Linked DNA regions of Homo sapiens: region 1 is linked to region 2. Evidence: fine-mapped expression QTL. Tissue or cell type: whole blood. Region 2 holds a variant in brackets; the other region holds the start of a gene. All regions are shown on one strand. Distances are between the middles of the regions.

Region 1 (9,789 bases), 74 kb before region 2:
TGATAAGCTGGCTCACAATAATCTCCATTGCTTTCTGCCAGCCAGAAAACCAACCTAATACACACCCTGGACCCAAGTATAGAAAGAAGACTAGAAGACATTGCCCTAAAATACTAACATTTGTCTTGGAGCGGTAAGACTAAGCCTGCCATTTTAATTCATCTGTTGACTTTTTTTAGGCTTCTGTTTTCTTAAATAAGTATGTATTCTTTTATAATAAAAATATATGCAAACAGAAGAAAATACGAGGACATTTTTTCTCTCAAAGATTAATTCCATGAGGTTCACAAGAGAAAAAAGAAACTTAAGATCAGAAAACACAGAACATATAAAATATATACCTCCCTTCTCTTACGGCACACTAAATGAATTTAACAGGTAGAAAGAAGTGAAATGGGAAGGTCAAAATAAAAGAAGAAAGGGAGAAGGGCACTGAGTGAAACTAACACAGAGGCAGAGAGAAAGCCTGAGAGGGTCAAGGAAGGATAGACCTTAAGAAAGTGACCCTGAGAAGACCCCCATGCAAATGAGACAGAAACTCAGATCAAGCAGGAAGAAATCTGAGAAGTAGAGTGGACCTTGGACTGCTGTGTAACCCTGGATTGGTTGCTGAACCTCTCTGGGCCTCTGCTCTTTATCTACGAGATGAGGCATCTGGAGACTACGAGGGTTTGGCCTGGGGGTACCTGGTGGGTCTCTGGTTCCAGTGGCCTGGCCAGGAATACTTCCACCTCTCCCTTTTCCACTGCCCACCTTTCCCATCAGCCCCAGCACATCTTTGGTGTCCTGAATTCCTTGTTCCAGGTACTCAATGGCTTTCTTCGCAGTGTGGGGCTTGTCTGAGGTCAGGTCCACCCAGCCTCTGAGCACATAGGCCTGGGATGAGAACAAGATGAAAGATGAAGTCCTTGGTCCTGCACAGAATCAACTCAGCCTGCACATGATCCACACTTTGCCACCCAAAACCCTGAGGCCCTGCCAGGCACAGTCCCGTGCAGATCCCAGGGCAGCCAGCTCTCTCTCATGGCCAGGACTCCCATTGTTGCTTTGTCTGGAAATGCCCTGGACAGCGCCCCTCCCACTCCCAACCAAACCCCTTCACCTAATGTCCATTACCACTACTTACAACTCAGCCTCAGAGGCCCCTGCTTAGGAGGCCTCCCTCCCTGTACCCCTACAGCTCTCCATGACCCTTACTGAGGCACACTCACCTATCCTGTCATTGCCTGTTTACACTGGGGTCAGGAGCCAACATGGGGGCCTACGCAAGGCCACTCTTGATGTCTCCACTCCTTAGGCCAGCACGAGGCCTGGCCCTGCATAGGAAGCCAAGGAATGCCCTCTGAGTGGGTGAGCAGGAGCCGTTCTGAGCTCGTGGACCTCGCTGGTTCCATGTTAGCCTTCACCCAGCCTCTCCAGGCAGATGGGGAGGGCCAGGCCTGGGAAGCAGACTTGGAAGAGCCCTGCCCTAAAGCACCCCTCTTGATGGCCTAGATCAGTATTTCTCTATTATAGTTCTATTTCTCTTTTTCTATTATCTATCCTAAGGAGTCTCTTTAGATACTGTTTTCTAATCAATCCCTCCCCTTCCAAGAAATGTTAGTGCCTCAGATATACCGTATCTGTGTATTGTGTACTGTATATATATCTGTGTTTTATACATAAAGAGTAAGATTTTTTTCACCCTCTCCCCCAGGGACCATGTCTACACCCTTGAAAATTGGTATCAGCCCTGCTGAGAAGGCATGGCCTAGACTGAGGCTTCAAATTCCATATTAGTGCAGATATACAGTATATGGGCTGCACTGCATGAGCCACCATTCAGTTCCAGCAGAGCATTACAGGGAGGGAATGGCCCAGTGTGGCCAGCTCATCTGGGTCTTCAAAAGAACCAGTAAGTCTGGACCAGCCTGGGCAACATGGCAAGACCCAGTCTCTACAAAAAATGTAAAAACTAGCTGGGCATGCTGGCACACACCTATGGTCCCAGCTACTTGGGGGGCTGAGGTGGAAGGATTGCTTGTGCCTAGGAGGTTGAGGCTGCAGTGAGGTCTCAAAAAAAAATTTCTTAAGAATATGGTGCAAGCCATAGAAAATCTATCTAAAGATCAGACTCTGTGTACAAATGCCAATGTGTAACCTCTGCTAAGCCCAGAGACAACACGCGTGGGGCAACTGTGAGACCCGGTGTTTTGCCAGTGCCTGGGTGTGGCTCTCCCCCAGTTTCAGGGCCCTTTGTGGGAATGAGGGCCACCCTGCTATTATGTGTTTGGATGCTGCTTTCTTCGCCTGTTGTCCCCATGGTGTGGTAAGTACCTCTCTGAAGCCTCTAGAAATCTTCAGCATGCGGTCAATGTACTCTTTGGCCTTGTCATGGCGGCCTATGAGCCAGAGGAAAAGGCCAGCATAGTACAGTGCAGTCCCACTGACTGTCTTGCGTATTTCCTTCAGGCTGTACTCAAGCTCCTGAATTGCTTCTCGGTCTGTAAATCCAAGAGCGAAGGAAGAGGGAGAGTTAGGATGTGGAAGTCTGCCTGGTTCTGCATGGGCCACCGAGGGCCCAGGGAACTACCTCGGGGTCTCCCCCAGACACTGTGGATCTCCTTCAACATATGCAGCACACCGCATGCAGCCCAAGGCCTGGAAACCAGCAGTACCTGCCCTTGAGATGCTGCAGGGGCTGCCCTGGTGTGGACTCACGTGTGCTGTCTGAGATTACCTTCTCTTCTCTGTGCCCAGCAGTGTGCTGAGCAGGCAGGCCAAACCAAAATCCTTAGCCTCAGGCCCACAACTTATTGTGAGTAGGGAAATAGTAGTCTGTAGTCTCTCTTGGACCCTCTCCCTGACTCTAGAAATGTGGAGATTAGGGGTAGAATTATATATATTGGCTTGGTTTTTCTGACAAGATCTTGGCAAAGAAGAAGGGTGTTTCCCCAACTCTTGGGATCTGGAGCATGGGCCCCTCCCACTGTCATGGGCTCTGCCTGCTTCCACTCAGTTGGGCCCAGGCATGGAGTCTTCTCCCAGGCCTCCAGGGGGAGAGGAGCAGCAGCCACTTCTCACTGGTTAACAGCATCTGCACAGCCACCAGGGCACATACCTCCTTTGGCAGCCCTTGAGGGGCTGTGTTATCTCTGGGGCAGGGCTTTCCTTCCCCTGGTGGGTCAGGCCTGGTTGAGCATGGTGGCACTCACCAATGATTTCACATCTTTTGTGAGCATAAATGAGGGCCATGGTGGAGCACAGGGACACGTCTGGGTGATGCCTGATGCTTTCCAGGTCACTGATGGCATCCTGGATGTGCTCTGCAAAGACAGTCCACATAGTTATACTCTCAAGCTCCAGGACTAGAGGACATGAGACTCTGTAGCTGACCCAACAGCTCAGCACTACTACCTGCTGGACTAACTGGTCTGAAAGGTCCCCAGTGACCCAAGTTCCCTGAAGATTGGGGCTCTTTGAAAGAGTTGCTGGTAACATGGTCCAGGCTGTTAGGGGCTGGAAATCTTGGACTTGAAAGGTTCACCCTGTGAGTACTTGTGGGGATATGTGTGAGGCTGCAATTATTAGCTGCGTCAGTTCTGAAGAAGGACCTCAGGCAGGGCATTCTCAGCTACTGCTCAAGAGCCACTGATTACATTTATCCCTCCATGTCCTCAGACATTTGGCCATGGGCTATTCTGCCAGTCCTCAGCCTAGGACCACCTTCTGAATGTCAGCCCATCTGCACCTGCATGGGTCTCACTCCTCTCCCTGTACCTGTACCATACCCACCTGTCCTCACACCTACCTCTTCCCCCTCCTTTGCCTGCATTACCAGTTCTCAGCTTCCAGGCCTGGAATTACTTCAAGAATCATGCAGCTATCTCTCCAACCACTCATTTTACAGAGAGGGAACCCGAGGTGCAGAGCAGGGATAGTCAGCGCTCTGAGGTCTCAAAAGTCAACTAGATATGGATTACGTAGGCCTCTGTGGATTCCCGTGGGAATCCAGCCGCTGAGTGTGAAACTGTTTTTATGGGACCATAACTAGGATACAAGAAGGCATCCAGGTGGAGCCAGAGTGTTAGGGCCCAGCTAGTGCCTGGGGTCACAAGACCAACACTGCCAAGTCCTTACCTTCTTTGAGGACTCCATAGGCTTTAAAGAACTTCAACACAGGGTCATTGCTGAATTTTTCCAGGCCCACAGCTGCAGCCTGCTGCACATGGTGGAAGTACTTTTCCTGGCTATAGTAAATGATCCCAGCCTGTATGAAGGAAGACATAACTGCAATAGCCCAGTCCCTTCTCTGTCTCTGTTCTGTCCCAGATGGGATGAGACCTGCTCCCTTCCCTATCCCCTGCTCCTCCTCAGTTCTGCAAAGGGAAGAGAAAGAGGAAACATTCAGGCCTCATCCTGTCCTCTAACAGCCCTGGGAGCAGCTCCATGCAGTTTTCCCAGGAAAGAGTTTGGAGGTGTTTGTTTGGGGGATTACCAACAGATTCTGGTTCAACTATGATGGGGAATTCAACCAAGGCTTTGTCTTAGGAAGGGAATAAGGGGGGAAAAATGAGGACAAATAATAAGAAAAATTATACGAATTGTAGTTACAAGTTATTGTGGGCTTCATATCCACTATCCTGTGCATGGTCCTCTCAGTATCTTTCACAGCTAAGGAAGCTTAAGCCCATGGAAACTACAGCTTGACAAAGGGGCTGAGATTTTAAAGTTAAGTTTCACTTCCTCTAAGGTTTGTGGGTGCTAGGTTGGGAGCAGATGTGGTTGGACTGTAAACATCCTCATGGGCCATATGAAAGAGCCCAGACACCATCCTAAGGGTAACAGAAAGCAGAATGGTTTTAAGGCGAGGGATGTTTTCAGATGTACATTTTTGCAACAACCACTCTGGCTGCTTTTGCATGTGGGGGGTGTGTGCCGTGGTGGCAGCAGGGACTACTGATGCTGAAAAGAGCCACAGCAGAGAAACCAGATGGGAGGGAGGCTGTTGCAGGCTCTCAGGGGGGAGAGATGGTGCTGGTTCTGGGCTAGAAGATAAAAAGATAAAAAGAAAACCCAGGAGACATCAAGGAGCTGGCATTTCTTGTAGACAGGATTAGAAGATGAGTATAGGGAAGAGGTATGAGTTAAGGCTAGGAGATTAAATGGTGAAGCCATCAACTGGGGTGGGAGGCGCAGGCGAGAGTGAGCTGGGTGGAAGAAGGGATGATGACAAGAAGGGATAATGATAGTGATTGGATGAGCTGGTTTGGGGTAGCTCAAGAAACGGGGATGCTAATTTGGGGCTCAGGGTGCGCAGAAGCCACCGGAGAAGACGCCCTTGCCAGGGGGAGTGGGGCAAGAAAAGGCAGGACCGCCTGATATAACTGAGGACAGCGAAGGGTGGCAGGAGAGTAGCAGGGCAGACGGTCTCTGGGTCAGGGGCGGGGAGTCACGAGGGAGCCCTCGGACAGCGCCCGGGCCACGCACCATAAGGGAGGAGTCATTGCTGCTCATCTCGGGCCGCTCGCGGCTCCGAGTCCGGGTCTGGTGGGGCGGTGCAGAGCGGGATTCCCGAGGCAGGGTCGTGGGCACTCTATCGCGGCGGGCGGTTGAAGGCGTTACAGTCCTTGGAAACCGAGCTGCTAGCCGGTTGCTAGGAGCGTCCAGTGTCTGGAGTGGGAGGAACAAAACGCCTCACGTCACAAGGCGCAGGAATCGAGCGCCGAGAGAGCGAGTCGGTGCTACTGGCGTCGGGTCGGTCCGGGTAGGCGCAGCGGGACTGGACCTGGGTGCCGAGCGGAGCCGCTGCCATGGGCCTGGGCGTCAGCGCTGAGCAGCCCGCAGGCGGCGCCGAGGGCTTCCACCTCCACGGGGTGAGTTGCCGCCGCGGCGCCGGTGACCTTGGCGAGGCGCCCGCAACCCCGCGCCCGGGCGTCCGGTCGCCGGCTGGCTGGCGACTGCGGCGGGGTCCCGGCCCGAGTGTTTCCGCCTGGGTGGCGGGAGGTGCCCCCTGCCCGGTGGGAGCCTCCTGGGAGAGGCGGCCTCGCGGGACTCCCGGACCCTGGCTAGTCCGCGGCCGCGGTCGGGCCCAGCGCCCGCCCCAAGTGCCAGCAGTGCCGGAAGCGGAGCGTTTTCCTGGTCCGGCCGCCGGGAATGGCGCTCCTCCCGGGTGAAGAATGCACCACTACCAGTCGGGACGCACTCGTGCACTTAGCACACATTTACGCTCGCCTGCCGCGGGCCGCTCTCCGTGCTGGGCCTGGGAAGAGAGTCAGCCACGCCGAGGACAGTCCCGGGGGCCGGGGTTAACCGAGTGGACGCAGCTGCGGGGGAGCCCGTCGGCGCGCGTCCTGCCAGTCGTAGGGTCGTAAGGGCTTCCGAGGGTAGAGGACCGGTGCAAACCAGCCACGGGATAGTGGGGAGCGGGAGGGCCGGGAGAGTGCTGCAGAATCCTCGAGGAGAGCGTTTGCAGCTGGGGAGGGTCCCAGCCTTTAGATGCCGCTACATGGAGGTCTGGGCGAGCAGGCTTCCGGAGAGTGGAGACGGAGTGGGGTTCCTAGAACGGAGTGTGCTGTGAGGGTGAGGAGAGGGTCCCGCAGCCGGATGGAGATTTGTGCCTGCGGTGAGGGAAGGGCTATAATGTAGGTGAGAGGGGCTGGGGGTCTCTGACCCCGGAGCGCTGCGGGGAAGAGGCGTCCCTGCACCCCCCCTTTCCCTAGTGAAAGGCAGCTGGATGCAGAGATGAGTGGAGACAGGCAAGCTTGTCGGTTTGTGTGTTTTGAAGGTAGGGTCTGTTGCCAGCTAACCACATGAGAGGGCTAAAAGTTTCTTAACGTGAAAACCAGGCTGGCTTGGAGAACCCAGAGTTGACAGGATTTGTGCTTGGGAATGGGCTTTCTTATGGTGAGACACCAAACAGCAAGCGTGGACAGTGGAATGCATCCAGCCAGGAGCGTCTTCCAACAGGTTTGATTAAAGGCAAAGGAACTCAGGATATTGGCAAGAGGAGGGGTGGGGCGATGATGGGAGCTTCGAAGACGGGAGGGGCCTGCCTGATGGAGAGGGACAAATTGGAGAGGGACCAGGGATCAGAGGTTGTCAGTCACAAAAACAAAGTTTTGAGCTCCTACTCTGGCAGGCAGAATTCTAAGGCTCTAGAGATAAAGCAGTGAACAGAACAAACATGGTCCCTGTTCTGGAGCTGACATTTGGATGATGGTAGGGAAAGAAGGGAAATGAAAAAATACATGGTAGGTGGTAATTACCAGTGATAAAAATAAAGCAGGTTAAGGGGATACAGAATGGTGAGTGGGTGCTATTTTTGATAGAGTGGTCAGGAAGGGCCTCTTCTCAAGTCACATTCGAACAGATGCTTCTGAAGGAAGTAAAGAGTGGACAATACAGATATTTAGGGGAATAGTAGTATTCCAGGCAGAAGGACCAGCTTGTGCAGAGGCCCCGAGGTAGGTTGTGCTTGTGTGTTTGAGGAAATGCCAGGTGAGGCTGGTGTGCTTGGATGGTGTGGCCAGTGTGAGGAGGAGACCAGAGCAGACCGTGTAGGACCTTGCCTGTTGTCCTGAAGATTTAAGATTTTATTCTGAGATGTAAAACCATCAGGAGGTTTTAAATGGAGGAGTGACATGACCTACTTACCTTTAACAACACTGAAGAACAGCTGTGCTGCATTCTAGAAATATTGGCACCTCGCTGCGTGCCCAATACTTTGGAGAAGTCGCTGCCCTCAGCGAGCTTAGAGTAGTGGCAGATTCACCAGGAAACAGCTGTTAGGAGAGGGCAGTGGTTAGGGGGAGGGCTCTGGGTTGGATTTCCTGGGGTCAAATTACTGAATTATTGAGTACTTGGTCTCATTTGTCATTTGAGGTTATTAAAAAGGTTAAATGACACATAAAGCAGGTGAGGTGGTGCCATGCCCTGGCACTCAGCCAACCAGCCCTTAGTAAGTGTAAGTTGTGATCACTGTGAGTTCCATTAGGTTCCCTGATTGGGAAAAATAGGGTGGGAGCATGAGGAAAAGCAGCACTATAGGGCCTTGGGGCAGGCTGTGATGGGAGCCCCTGAGGGAGCTGGATGGCAGGCAGTGGTTTCTGCAGGGGGAGCCGTACAGTGGGCAGCAGCATAGATTATTTCAGCTGCGGAGCCATAGTGAGTAGTGATGAGGCCCCAGGTGAGAGAAGTGGAGTGTAGCCAAGCAGAGGACAAAGCCACAGGAGAGGGTGGTGGAGGTATTGGGTGGGTCAAGGAGGCCAGGCCTGGGGCCTGACCCTCTGGACCTCATTCATGATGGAGAGCAGCTGACATGCAATACTGGGGAGTGGGGAGGGAAGTAGGCAGGCACCTGACGTGGAGTGATTTGGAGGTGGCCCTGATTAGGGAGGGGCATTGTCCCCAAGCTATTCCTGAATAACTGTCCTGTCCTGTGGTTTTCGAAAGATCCCCTCACCTGAAGGGTTAGAGGGCAGGGCCCAGAGCTCCCCTGCAGCGGGGCCTGGGAGCAGCTTGCCTACTGGGCCAGGCCAACTAGGCCCAGATCTGATTTCTGGGCCGCACTCACTCCCTTTGGAAGCCATGGCAGCTTCTGGAGGTGATAAGGAGGGGCTCAGTTGGTGATGCTGCCAGAAGGGAATCCTAATTCCAGGGGCAAACTGGCCTTGATCTCAGCGGTTTGTTCTCAGCCTAGTCTTCATGAGCTCTCCTTCAGGTTGGGGAATCCAAACCTGGAGGGGCTGGTATGTAGCAGGAGCCACAGGGCCTTTCCCATGAGGAGGCAGCAAGAGCCTAGGTCCTGTGCCCTCTGGGCTGGGTCTGGCTGGTGTCTACGCCAACAGGTTATCAAATGCCCGCAGCCAAAGACCTGAGGGTGTGGGCCCATCTTCGGGTCTAGGGCCTTGGGACAAAGCCTGCATTGTTTAAGCCAGGCTCTGTATATGGGGCTTTTGGGATGGATTTCTGCCACAGCCTGCAAAGCCTGGTTGTTGTGCTTTTGGAGACAGCAGTGAGGTGGGGAGTTCAGGGAGGGGCAGGGAGCACCCTGGAAATGGGAATGCTTCCTGGAGGAGGTGTCCTGCACAGGCATGGAGGCTACACTATGAGGCTGGTAGGGCAGCTGAGCCACTGGGGGGCTCCTCAGTCCAGAGCCAGGCTGTGGGGATTGGCACTGCCCACTCACTGGGCTCCCTGGCTCAGGCCTAGTTCTACCCCTGGGGTCTGCTTCTCTGCCAGTGGCTTTCATTACCTGCTGGACTGAGCCTGGGTCTCCCACCCCAGAGGCTGGGGTGCAAGCTGGGACCTGGCTGCAAGCTGCTTTTCCCACTCCCTCTTTCTGGGTACAGCCCTGGGTGTATCCCTCCCGAGGCCTGCCCACTTCCACTGCACGTCAGGGCCCTCCCTTCTGGTCCAGTCTAAACCTTTCTGGTAAACCCTTTTGGCTTTCCGGCCAACCCTAGCCTAGCCCTCTAGAGCAGCATTCCCACAGGCCTGGGCCAGCCTGTCTCCATATTGCCTCCTGGGAGCCCCTAAGGATGTCCTGGGCTGTGAGCCATTTCTGAAAGCATCTGTGGATCATAATCAGGAAGGAGCCATTTTCCTAAGAGGAAAATTTGTGCCCAGGAAGGTAGCAAGAGGCCATGGAGTGAACCCTGAGAATGTCCGGAACAGTTCATGCCAGACATGTGTTCTGGCTGGCACACTGGGAGTGCTGATGGTTCCTGAAATGGGGGAGAGGGCTACTTGGAGAGTCCCAGGGTTGGCGCAGTGACTGTGGTCTTTGCTGTGGGATAGGTGCAGGAG
Region 2 (10,088 bases):
ATGTGGGCTTTAGTGCTAGAGTCATGGCTCTACTGCTAGGTCTGGCTGGGATACTGGCACTCAGTCTTCTGTATGGGCATGGTGGAATGACCGCAGGGCCCCAGGGATATTGGAGACATAGGGCCATTGGATCCTGGGGCAGGATGTACTTCAGCAGTGGCTTCTTTCCCAAAATGGTACCATGCCGTGACAGCTTAGGTCCCAGGGAGTCTGCAGGAGAGGGTTCATTGTGTGTTTGTGGATGTATTTTAAAACCATCACACTGCCATAGGCAAAATAAATAGATTCAGAAACAAAGGGATATTATACCTAATGACCCACTTAAAACAATTTTTTAGACTTCCATTCTCTGAAATTCTGGGCTTCGGTGGTTTTAGAGGTTTGTTTCTAAAGAAAGGAGTTCCTCCAGCAAGGGCTAAACAATGATTTCTTTGATTTGGAGCTGAGACTGCCATCTGACCATTTTCCATGTCATCTATCATTGGATAAGCAAGAGAAGAAGAAGGTGAAAGAGAGGAAGAAGGTTATGGTATTGATTGATGTTATTAAACTTATCATCAAGCAAAAAAAATAGTTCTGCTGGTATATCTTTAAACAGATAGATCTACCAAATGCTTGGATCCCTTAGAAATGAAGGTATTGGCTGAAAGTAAAAGGAACATGGAATCGCTAGTAGAGAAAGGAAGTCATAAATGGAGGGAAGGCCTTATGATCAGGGGAAGAAATGAGAGTTGTCATCTTGTTTATGTATTTTTTAATGTTTCATGTATTCTTTTATGTGTTTTCACTTTTCTTTAGCCTTTATACTTCACTATTGTATGTAGGGTGTGATACTGTTGTAAACTTCATTATTTAGTCCATAAGTATCAGAATGTGGATACGAAATCAGTACAGAACTTGAAGAAGAATGGCCACCAACTAGACTTGGTGATGGATGGTTCTAGACTTGGAATTGGGTTGATGGATGTGGTAACTGATGACACATTGGATTGACTTCCTTGGAGAGTGACAGTGTGAGTGCATCTTTGATTGTATAAAGGAAAATTGCAATATTTTAAGTGGCAACACTTTTTTGAAATGTAAACATTGGAAGCAATGGTTATATTGGTGTTGGGCAACCAAAGGGATGACTTTGTGTTTGACATTTTTGTGGTTTTATTTTCTGCTGTTTATCATCTGAGCCCTCTTTCTATGTGTGTGGAATTCCTCACTGTATGTGTCTTGGTTGTGGTGAGCAATACTCCCACTATAGAAAATGAGGATAGTTACTCACTTCTATAGTTAAAGTATGTTCATGTAACCTCAGCTTGACTAATCAGATAACATCTTGACTGCAACCTCATGAAACTCTGAGCTACAACCAACCACCTAAACTGCTCCTGAATTCCTGAACTACAGAAACTGTGTGAAACAATAAATGTTTATTATTGTTTTAAGTGGCTAAGTTGTGGGATAATTTGCATTGCAACAAAAGATAACTAATACACCTTCTCTTCCTCATGGGGAGTGGAAATGTCACAGCGCCTTCACAGCTCTCACAAAGATATTCTTACCATCACCCTCTTCAATCTACCATTTAATTCTTTGCCTTCTCTTACAAAATTGCTAGGAGGCTTGTCCTGGCAGAATTCCTTTAACAATCTTTTTAGCATTTTCTTTATGAAAAGATTGGTTTCGTTATTCAAAATGTAAGAAGCCTTGACACCTATTACATTGTTTTCAGCTTTTAAGACTTCTGCCAAAACTCCTAGATAATATGAAAGGTTTAACATCCTTCTTTATTTTCGGCTCCCATTCTCATTTCTATCCCCCATTATAAGTACAGTCATCCCTCAATATCTATGGGGGATTTGTTCCAGGACCTCCTCTGATACCAAAATCCAAGTATACTCTAGTCTCTGATATAAAATGGGATAGTGTTTGCATATAACCTAAGCACATCCTCCTGTACAGTTTAATTTTTTTTATTTTTAATTTTATAGGTATATAGTAGATGTATATATATTTATGAGGTACATGAGATACTTTGATAGAGGCATACAATGTGCAATAATCACATCAGGGTATATGGCGTATCTATTACCTGAAACATTCATATTTCTTTGCGTTACAAACATTCCAATTGTACTCCCTTAGTTATTCTAAAACATACAACAAATTATAAATGACTGTAGTCACCTTCTTGTGCTATCAAATACTAGGTTTTATTCATTCTATCTAACTATATTTTTGTACCCATTAATGATACCCACTTCCCTGACCCCCACCACTACCCTTCACAGCTTTTAGTAACCATCATTTTACTCTATCTCCATGAGTTCAATTGTTTTAATTTTTACTTCCTACAAATTAGTAATAACATGCAAAGTTTGTTTTTCTATGCCTGGCTTATTTCACTTAACATAACGTCCTCCAGTTCCATCCACGTTGTTGCAAATGACACGATCTCATTCCTTTTTGTAGCTGAATAGTACTCTATCGTATACACGTGCCACATTTTCTTTATCCACTTGTCTGTTGATGAACACTTAGGTTGATTCCAAATCTTGGCTATTATGAGTAGAGCTGCAATAAACATGAGAGTGCAGATATCTCTTCAATATACTGATTTCCTTTCTTTTGGCTATATACCTAGCAGTGGGATTGCTGGATCGTATAGTAGTTCTATTTTCAGTTTCTTGAGGGAACTTCTATACTGTTCTCCAGAGTGGCTGTACTAATTTACATTCCCACTAACAGTATATGAGGGTTCCCTTTTCTCCACTAGCATTTGTTATTGCCTGTCTTTTGGATAAAAGCCATTTTAACTGGGGTGAGATAATATAGTTTTGATCTGCATTTCTTTGATGATCAGTGATGTTGGGCACCTTTTCATTCGTATGTCTTCTTTTGAGAAATATCTATTCAGATCTTTTGCCCATTTTTAATTGGATTATTAGATTTTTTCTTACAGAGTTGTTTGTGTTCCTTATATATTCTGGTTATTAACCACTTGTCAGATGGATAGTTTGCAAATATTTTTTCCCGTTCTATGTATTCTCTCTTCACTTTGTTGATTATTTCCTTTGCTGTGCAGAAGCTTTTTAGCTTGACGTGATCCCACTTATCCATTTTCTTTGATTGTCTGTGCTTTTGGGATATTACTCAAGAAATCTGCTTGGCCAGGTGTGGTGGCTCTTGCCTGTAATCTCAGCACTTTAGGAGGCCGAGGCGGGTAGATCACTTGAGGCCAGGAGTTTGAGATCAGCCTGGCCAACATGGCAAAATCCCGTCTCTACTAAAAATACATAAATTAGCCAGATGTGGTGGGGCATGGCTATAATCCCAGCTACTTGGGAGGCCTGAGGCGTGAGAATCTCTTGAACCTGGGAGGCGGAGGTTGCAGTGAGCTGATATTGTGCCATTGCACTCCAGCCTGGGCTACGGAGTGAGACTCTGTCTCTAAAAAAAAATAAAAAGAAATCTGCTGAGTGCAGAAAGCTGACGCAGGAGGATTGCTTAAGTCCAGGAGTTCTGGGCTATAACGCACTATGCCAATCAAGTTTCTGCACTAAATTTGGCATCAATGTGGTGACCTCCCAGGAGCAGGGGACCAGACCACCTGGTTGCCTAAGGAGGATTGGACTAGCCCAAGTCAGAAATGTAGCAAGTCAAAACTTCAATGTTGCCAGGCACAGTGGCTCACGCCTGTAATCCCAGCACTTTGGAAGGCCAAGGCGGGTGGATCACAAGGTCAGGAGATTGAGACCATCCTGGCTAACATGGTGAAACCCTGTCTCTACTAAAAATACAAAAAATTAGCCAGGCGTGGTGGCGGGTGCCTGTAGTCCCAGCTACTCGGGAGGCTGAGGCAGGAGAATGGCATGAACCCGGGAGGCGGAGC[T/C]TGCAGTGAGCTGAGATTGTGCCACTGCACGCCAGCCTGGGCAACAGAGCGAGACTCCATCTAAAAAAAAAAACCTTCCATGTTGATCAGTACCAGGATCACACCTGTGAATAGCCACTGCACTTCAGCCAGAGCAACATAGGGAGATCCCATCTCTAAAAAAAGAAAAAAGAAAAAATTTTGCCCAGACTAATGTCCTGGAGAGTTTCCTCAATGTTTTCCTTTAGTTGTTTCATAGTTTGAGGTCTTAGATTTAAGTCCTTAATCCATTTTGATTTGATTTTTATATACGGCAAGAGATAGGGGCCTAGTTTCATTCTTTTGCATATGGATATCCAGTTTTCCCAGCACCATTTACTGAAGAGACTGTCCTTTCCCCAGTGTATGTACTTGGCACCTTTATCAAAAGTGAGTTCATTGTAGATGTATGGATTTATTTCTGGATTCTCTATTCTGTTCCCTTGGTCTGTGTGTCTGTTTTTGTGTCAGTACCATACTGTTTTTGTTACTATGGCTCTGTAATATAATTTGAAGTCAGGTAATGTGATTCCTTCAGTTTTGTTCTTTCTGCTTAGGATGGCTTTGGCTATTCTGGGCCTTTCATGGTTCCGTATAAATTTTAGGATTTTTTTTTATTTCTGTGAAGAATGTTATTGTTATTTTCATAGGGATTGCATTGAGTCTGTAGATTGCTTTTGGTGGTATGGACATTTTAACAATATTAATTCTTCCAATCCATGAACATGGTATATCTTTCTATTTTTTGTGTGTCTGCTTCAATTTCCTTTATCAACATTTTATAGTTTTCATTATAGAGATCTTTTACTTTTTTGATTAAGTTTATTCTTGGTTTTTATTTGATTTGTTGTTATTGTAAATAGAATTACCTTCCTTCAGATTGTTCACTATTGACATACAGGAATGCTACTGATTTTTTATGTTGATTTTTATATCCTGCAACTCTACTGAATTTGTTTATCAGTTCTAATAGTTTTTTGATAGAGTCTTTAAGTTTTTCCCAATGTAAGATCATATCTGCAAACAAAGATAATTTGACTTCTTTCTTTCCAATTTGTATGCCTTTTATTTATTTCTCTTACTGGGTTGCTCTAGCTAGGACACTGACTACTATTAAAATATTCAATAACAGTGATGAAAGTGGACATCTTTGTTGTGTTCCAGATCTTCGAGGAAAGACTTTCAGTTCTTCTGCATTTAGTCTGATACTGACATAGGTCTGTTGTATATGGCTTTTACTGTGTTGAGATATGTTCCTTCTATGTCCAGTTCTTTGAGGATTTTTTTTTATCATGAAGGGATGTTGGATTTTATCAAATGCTTTCTCAGCATCAATTGAAATGATCATATGATTTTTGTCCTTTATTCTGTTAATATGTTGTATCACCTTAATTAATTTGTATATGTTGAACCGTCCTTGCATCTCTGGGCTGAATTCCACTTGGTCATAATGAACGATCTTTTTAATGTGCTGATGAATTCTATTTGCTGGTATTTTGTTGCCTCCTGTATAGTTTTTTTGTTTGTTTTGTTTTGTTTTTGAGATGGAGTCTCACTCTGTTGTCCAGGCTGGAATGCAGTGGTGCGATCTCGGCTCACTGCAACCTCCGCCTCCTGGGTGCAAGCAATTCTCCTGCTTCAGCCTCCTGAGTAGCTGGGATTACAGATGCACACCACCATGCCTGCTAATTTTTGTATTTTTAGTAGAAATGGTGTTTCATTATGTTGGCCAGGCTGGTCTCGAACTCCTGACCTTGTGATCTGCCCACCTTGGCCTCCCAAAGTGCTGGGATTACAAGTGTGAGCCACCATGCCCATCCTATACTTTTAATTATCTCTAGATTACTTATACCCAATACAATGTAAATGCTATGTAAATAGTAGTTCTACTATATTGTTTAGGCAATAACAAGAAAAAAACTCTTGAGTTTTTTTCAAATATTTTTTATTTGCAGTTGCTTGAATCCACAGATGTGGAACCCATGGATATTGAGGGCCAGCTGTACTGTGATGTGTTCATATAATCTCTCAGATTCCCTGTGAATGCCTAATGATAGCCATGTGCCATGACCTAAGGAATATTCTCAAGTCAATCTTACACACCTGAAGTTATTCACATGATGTGGTTCAAGTCCTAGGTCAGCCTTTGCCCTTTGAGAATTCACATTATCTCTCCAAGCCCCCAAGGTCTTAACTAATCTGTAAAATAGTAATAACAATGCTTTTCTCACAAGGTACTTCTGAGGTATATTGTAGTTCTGTTCTCTTTGAGTCTCGAATCTTTGTTTTAAGCATTTTTGTGCAATAAAATGTAGATTGTACATGAAAAAAGTTTAACATCTGGAAAGAAACCTCACATGTCTAATAAACAAAAATGTAGTAAATATAAAAAGTAAATATAAAAAGTAAATAAGAGTTTTAGAAGGCTTCTGCTTCCAAACAAACCAGACTTGCTATTGTTAAATCATCCTCTGAAGTTTGATCTTTCTTCTGCCAATTACCTGAGCAAGTTAATTAAGTTTTCTCTCTCTCTCTCTTTTTTTTTTTTTCAAGATGCAACCTCCTTCTGTTACCCAGGCTGGAGTGCAGTGGCGCTATCTCAGCTCACTGCAACCTCCACCTCCCAGGTTCAAGCAATTCTCCTGCCTCAGCCTCCCCAGTAGCTGGGATTACGGGCGCCCGCCACCATAGCTTGGCTAATTTTTGTATTTTTAGTAGAGTCAGGGTTTCGCCATGTTGGCCAGGCTGGTCTCGAACTCCTGACCTCAAGTGATCTGCCCACCTCGGCCTCCCAAAGTGTTGGGATTGTAGGCATGAGCCACTGTGCCTGGCCAGTTTCTCTCATCTTCAATTTCTTTATCTGTAAAATGGTAATAAAAATGGTACCCATTTCATATGGGTCTTCTGAATTCAAATGAGATGATCTTAGCATAGCACTTAGTATGCAGGAAATATTCAATATATTTTAGGTATTATTTTTAATAATCAGCTTGCCCAGGAAACATTGGCAAAGTGTTATAATTTCCTAGAGTCAACTGTCTCATAAGTTTTATGTAATACAGGCTCTATCACTTTTTAAAAATTTTCAAATCAGTTTGAAATTTTCTGTTTTTCTTGCCTCCTCTCTTGCTTTTACAACCTGGAAAAGGTCTTGTGAAATGATAAAGCTTGTTTTTTTTGTTGTTGTTGTTGTTTTCAGATTGTCCCAGTGCTTCGCATGTTTTTGGCTCCATGTTCAATCCATTTGCTGAACACAGTGAAAGTATCCAGTATGTCTTTCCACCGTACCCTAGAGTTGGCATCTTGTTTACCAGAGGGGAGCGGTGAGTGTTTTCATATTTTTTGTTTGTTCAAGAGGAATTAATATATTTTGAAAATATATTTAAAAATGCAACATAATTAGAGCCTTTATTTATAACCACCACTGTCTGTTAGTGATTAATATGTTAATTTGGATATTTTAAAGACAGATTTTTAAAAGAATAGAATAAGACTCATTTAAATAATGCAGAAATGCTAAATAAACTAATTTTTTGAGCAACTGAGTTTATTTTATTGCCCTGCTCCTGACACAGACATCAATCTGTTTTAAACACATCAGTTCTAGAAGTATATTTAGAAGTACAGGGGGAAATGAGCACGTAAGAATCAGTCAGTATTCAGAGATTAATCCACTCCTTTTGTATAACCATTTTTGGTTTTTTTTTGTTTGTTTTTATGTTAGTAAAATGTACTTTTTCTAAGTTTTTCCTTCACTGTAAAATATATCTATCAGTTGGTTAAAGCAGGATGCAAATGTGGTGGGAATTCTGACTTAGCAGGGTTTGGCAAACTTTTTCTGTAAACAAAATAAACTTTTTAATGCAAGCCTATCACGGATATTAATCAGATTCACGGAGAAACTAAGAAGCCGCATAATTTCTTCATAGCCCTTTAATAGTCTTCTTTGAAGAAATAAGGGTGTTATGATATATAATAGACTAGAAGATCATAATTAAATAATTATACAGAAGTAAAGCAAGATTATATAAGTATACATAGAGACTCAGAATGCTTAAAATGTTTAAGTTCAAAGTTGTGTACTATTTTTGTCCTGGCAGAAAGACCTCCATTTTATCTTTCTTTTTCTTTTTCCTTCCTTCTTTGTTTGTTTTTTTTTTGTTTGTTTGTTTTTTGTTTGACAGAATCTCACTCTGTCACCCAGGCTGGAGTGCACTGGTGCAATCTTGGCTCATTGCAACCTCCACCTCCCAGGTTCAAGCTATTCTCCTGCCTCAGCCTCCCAAGTAACTGGGATTATAGTCACATGCCACCACACCCAGCTAATTTTTGTATTTTTAGTAGAGATGGGGTTTCACCGTGTTGGCCAGGCTGGTCTCCAACTTCTGACCTCAAGTGATCCTCCTGCTTTGGCCCGCCAAAGTGTTGGGATTATAGGCAAGCGAGAGCCACCGTGCCTGGCCAAGACCTCGGTTTTAAATACAGTATTTACAATATCCTTTTGAAGTTGTAAGAAGTCATGGTGCTGAATGGTTCATTGTTCAACAGTTCACTTATTTCTGAACACACTGAGAAGAAAACATCCTTCAGTTCTTTTATCTCCTTCTGTCTATATATTTTACGTCCCAATATTAGAGACACATAAACCAGTCCATTTTCCATTTCAAAAATGCTTTGACCTCCATCTAGCTTTCCCACTGGAGGGCAGTAGAGAACCATCCAGGCCATCCTTGATTTGAACTAACTGGCGAATATGACAAGTCAGACTTCAAAATACTTAACACTTAATCCCTACTGATGAAAAGTCATAACCAAAGTATCTTTTCAGGAAACCTATTTTCTCCCATAAAAGTTCTATAATTGATCATGAAAATACATTAAAAGAAATAAAGCAAAATGTGTTTGTAAAGTACTAAGTGGGCAAAATAAAAACAATATAAAAACCATGTCACAAATGTGCTTTGTGTGTGTGTGTGGTAGGATTTTTGTTAGGAGCTGAACTGGCTGAGGCTTCTTAACAATACTAGTCTAAAAACGTGCGCTGGATGTAAATTTTAATCCACAAACTGATGTGTCAAATTGGATGTCGCATTATTAAAAATAAAAATAATTTCAAGCTCTTGGCCAGCTAAAATGATAGAAAACGTAACTTCAGTTACTGTTAAGATTCTTCTGACACTCTAATATACCATAAAGTCACTCATGTATCCCAGGGGTTATATGCCTGGAAGCACCAACAATCCTCAGGCCATAGTGGTTAGGGCTGAGATGCCTTAGGGTGTCAGAAATATGGTCCTGTGGAAGTGGGCGAGCCACTGGTCTTTTCTGCCGTTGAGACTGGGATTTTTTGTTAGGACCGGGAATCCCAGTGCCTAGGGCTGCACTTCCTGAAGAGCTCCAGCCATCACGACCAGGTTCTGTCACCAACCTAGATGTTTTCAGCAGTGGTTACAGGTCTGCCCTCTTTGCAGAGCATCTCCTGCTTTCGCTCACTCCTCCTCTTGCCTCCAAAGAGAATTGGCTTCTCCTCGCCATGCCCCTCCCCACTTAGATTTATAGTTTAAAACTCTTCAGTGAGCTTGAGCTTTCACTAAGGGCAAGACTAGAGATGATCTTTAAGCAGTTTCTGCCTTATGCCCAGGAATATAAACCACTCTTGAGACCAGCAAGCACTGTGGGCTGGCAACCCTCAGCAGATGGTGGAAATGGAAGAAAAATTACACTAAAAACAAAATATACTCTAATGTCTGAACAAATCATCTTGCCACAGAAGCTGGAACTGAAGACAATTCTTTTCCTAGTAATCTCCCTATAGAAAGCACAGGCATTCTTTATGTCTCTAAGCACCTTCAAACTGCATTCAAAATTAGGGTTGTGAATCTGGAATCTTTCTTTGCTAATTGGTTGTACATGAATGCCTGCAGAAGCCTTTGAATGGTAAATATTGTGGGAGGGGCAGTTGCCATGGTGACTGTCCAATGGACCCTTTTTCTTACATTTCAATTAAATCTTCATTGCTGAACTGCTATGAATGAGAAGGTAACAACTCAGTAACATCTGGAAGACAGGAGAAGATGTGAGAGATGCTGTTCCAAATGTAGCTACATTCTAAATGCCCTGAGTTGTACTACGTTTGCCTTGAACCATCTCTTCATGGGTTCCCCTGCCCACTATGTCCTTTCCCACT

Evidence for each region. PIP is the estimated chance that this variant, and not a neighbour inherited with it, causes the effect.
Region 1: it holds the start of GORASP1, and the variant in region 2 is fine-mapped to the expression of GORASP1 in whole blood (TOPMed, PIP above 0.99).

The regions. Positions count from the first base shown.
Region 1 is chr3:39,103,545-39,113,333 of GRCh38, reverse strand. It overlaps GORASP1 (golgi reassembly stacking protein 1), which reads left to right and starts at 5,707. Exons shown (of 9, transcript NM_031899.4): 1 at 5,707-5,855; 2 at 9,781-9,789. The coding sequence starts at 5,793. It overlaps TTC21A (tetratricopeptide repeat domain 21A), which reads right to left and starts at 5,654. Exons shown (of 29, transcript NM_001366900.1): 1 at 5,470-5,654; 2 at 4,120-4,249; 3 at 3,195-3,305; 4 at 2,317-2,483; 5 at 754-876. The coding sequence starts at 5,496. RefSeq lists a silencer at 5,758-6,077.
Region 2 is chr3:39,029,516-39,039,603 of GRCh38, reverse strand. SCN11A (sodium voltage-gated channel alpha subunit 11) reads left to right here. Exons shown (of 30, transcript NM_001349253.2): 2 at 7,101-7,224. Among named protein-coding and RNA genes, the nearest start is that of SCN11A, 17 kb to the left of the region's middle. The variant T/C (reference allele first, on the strand shown) is at 3,884.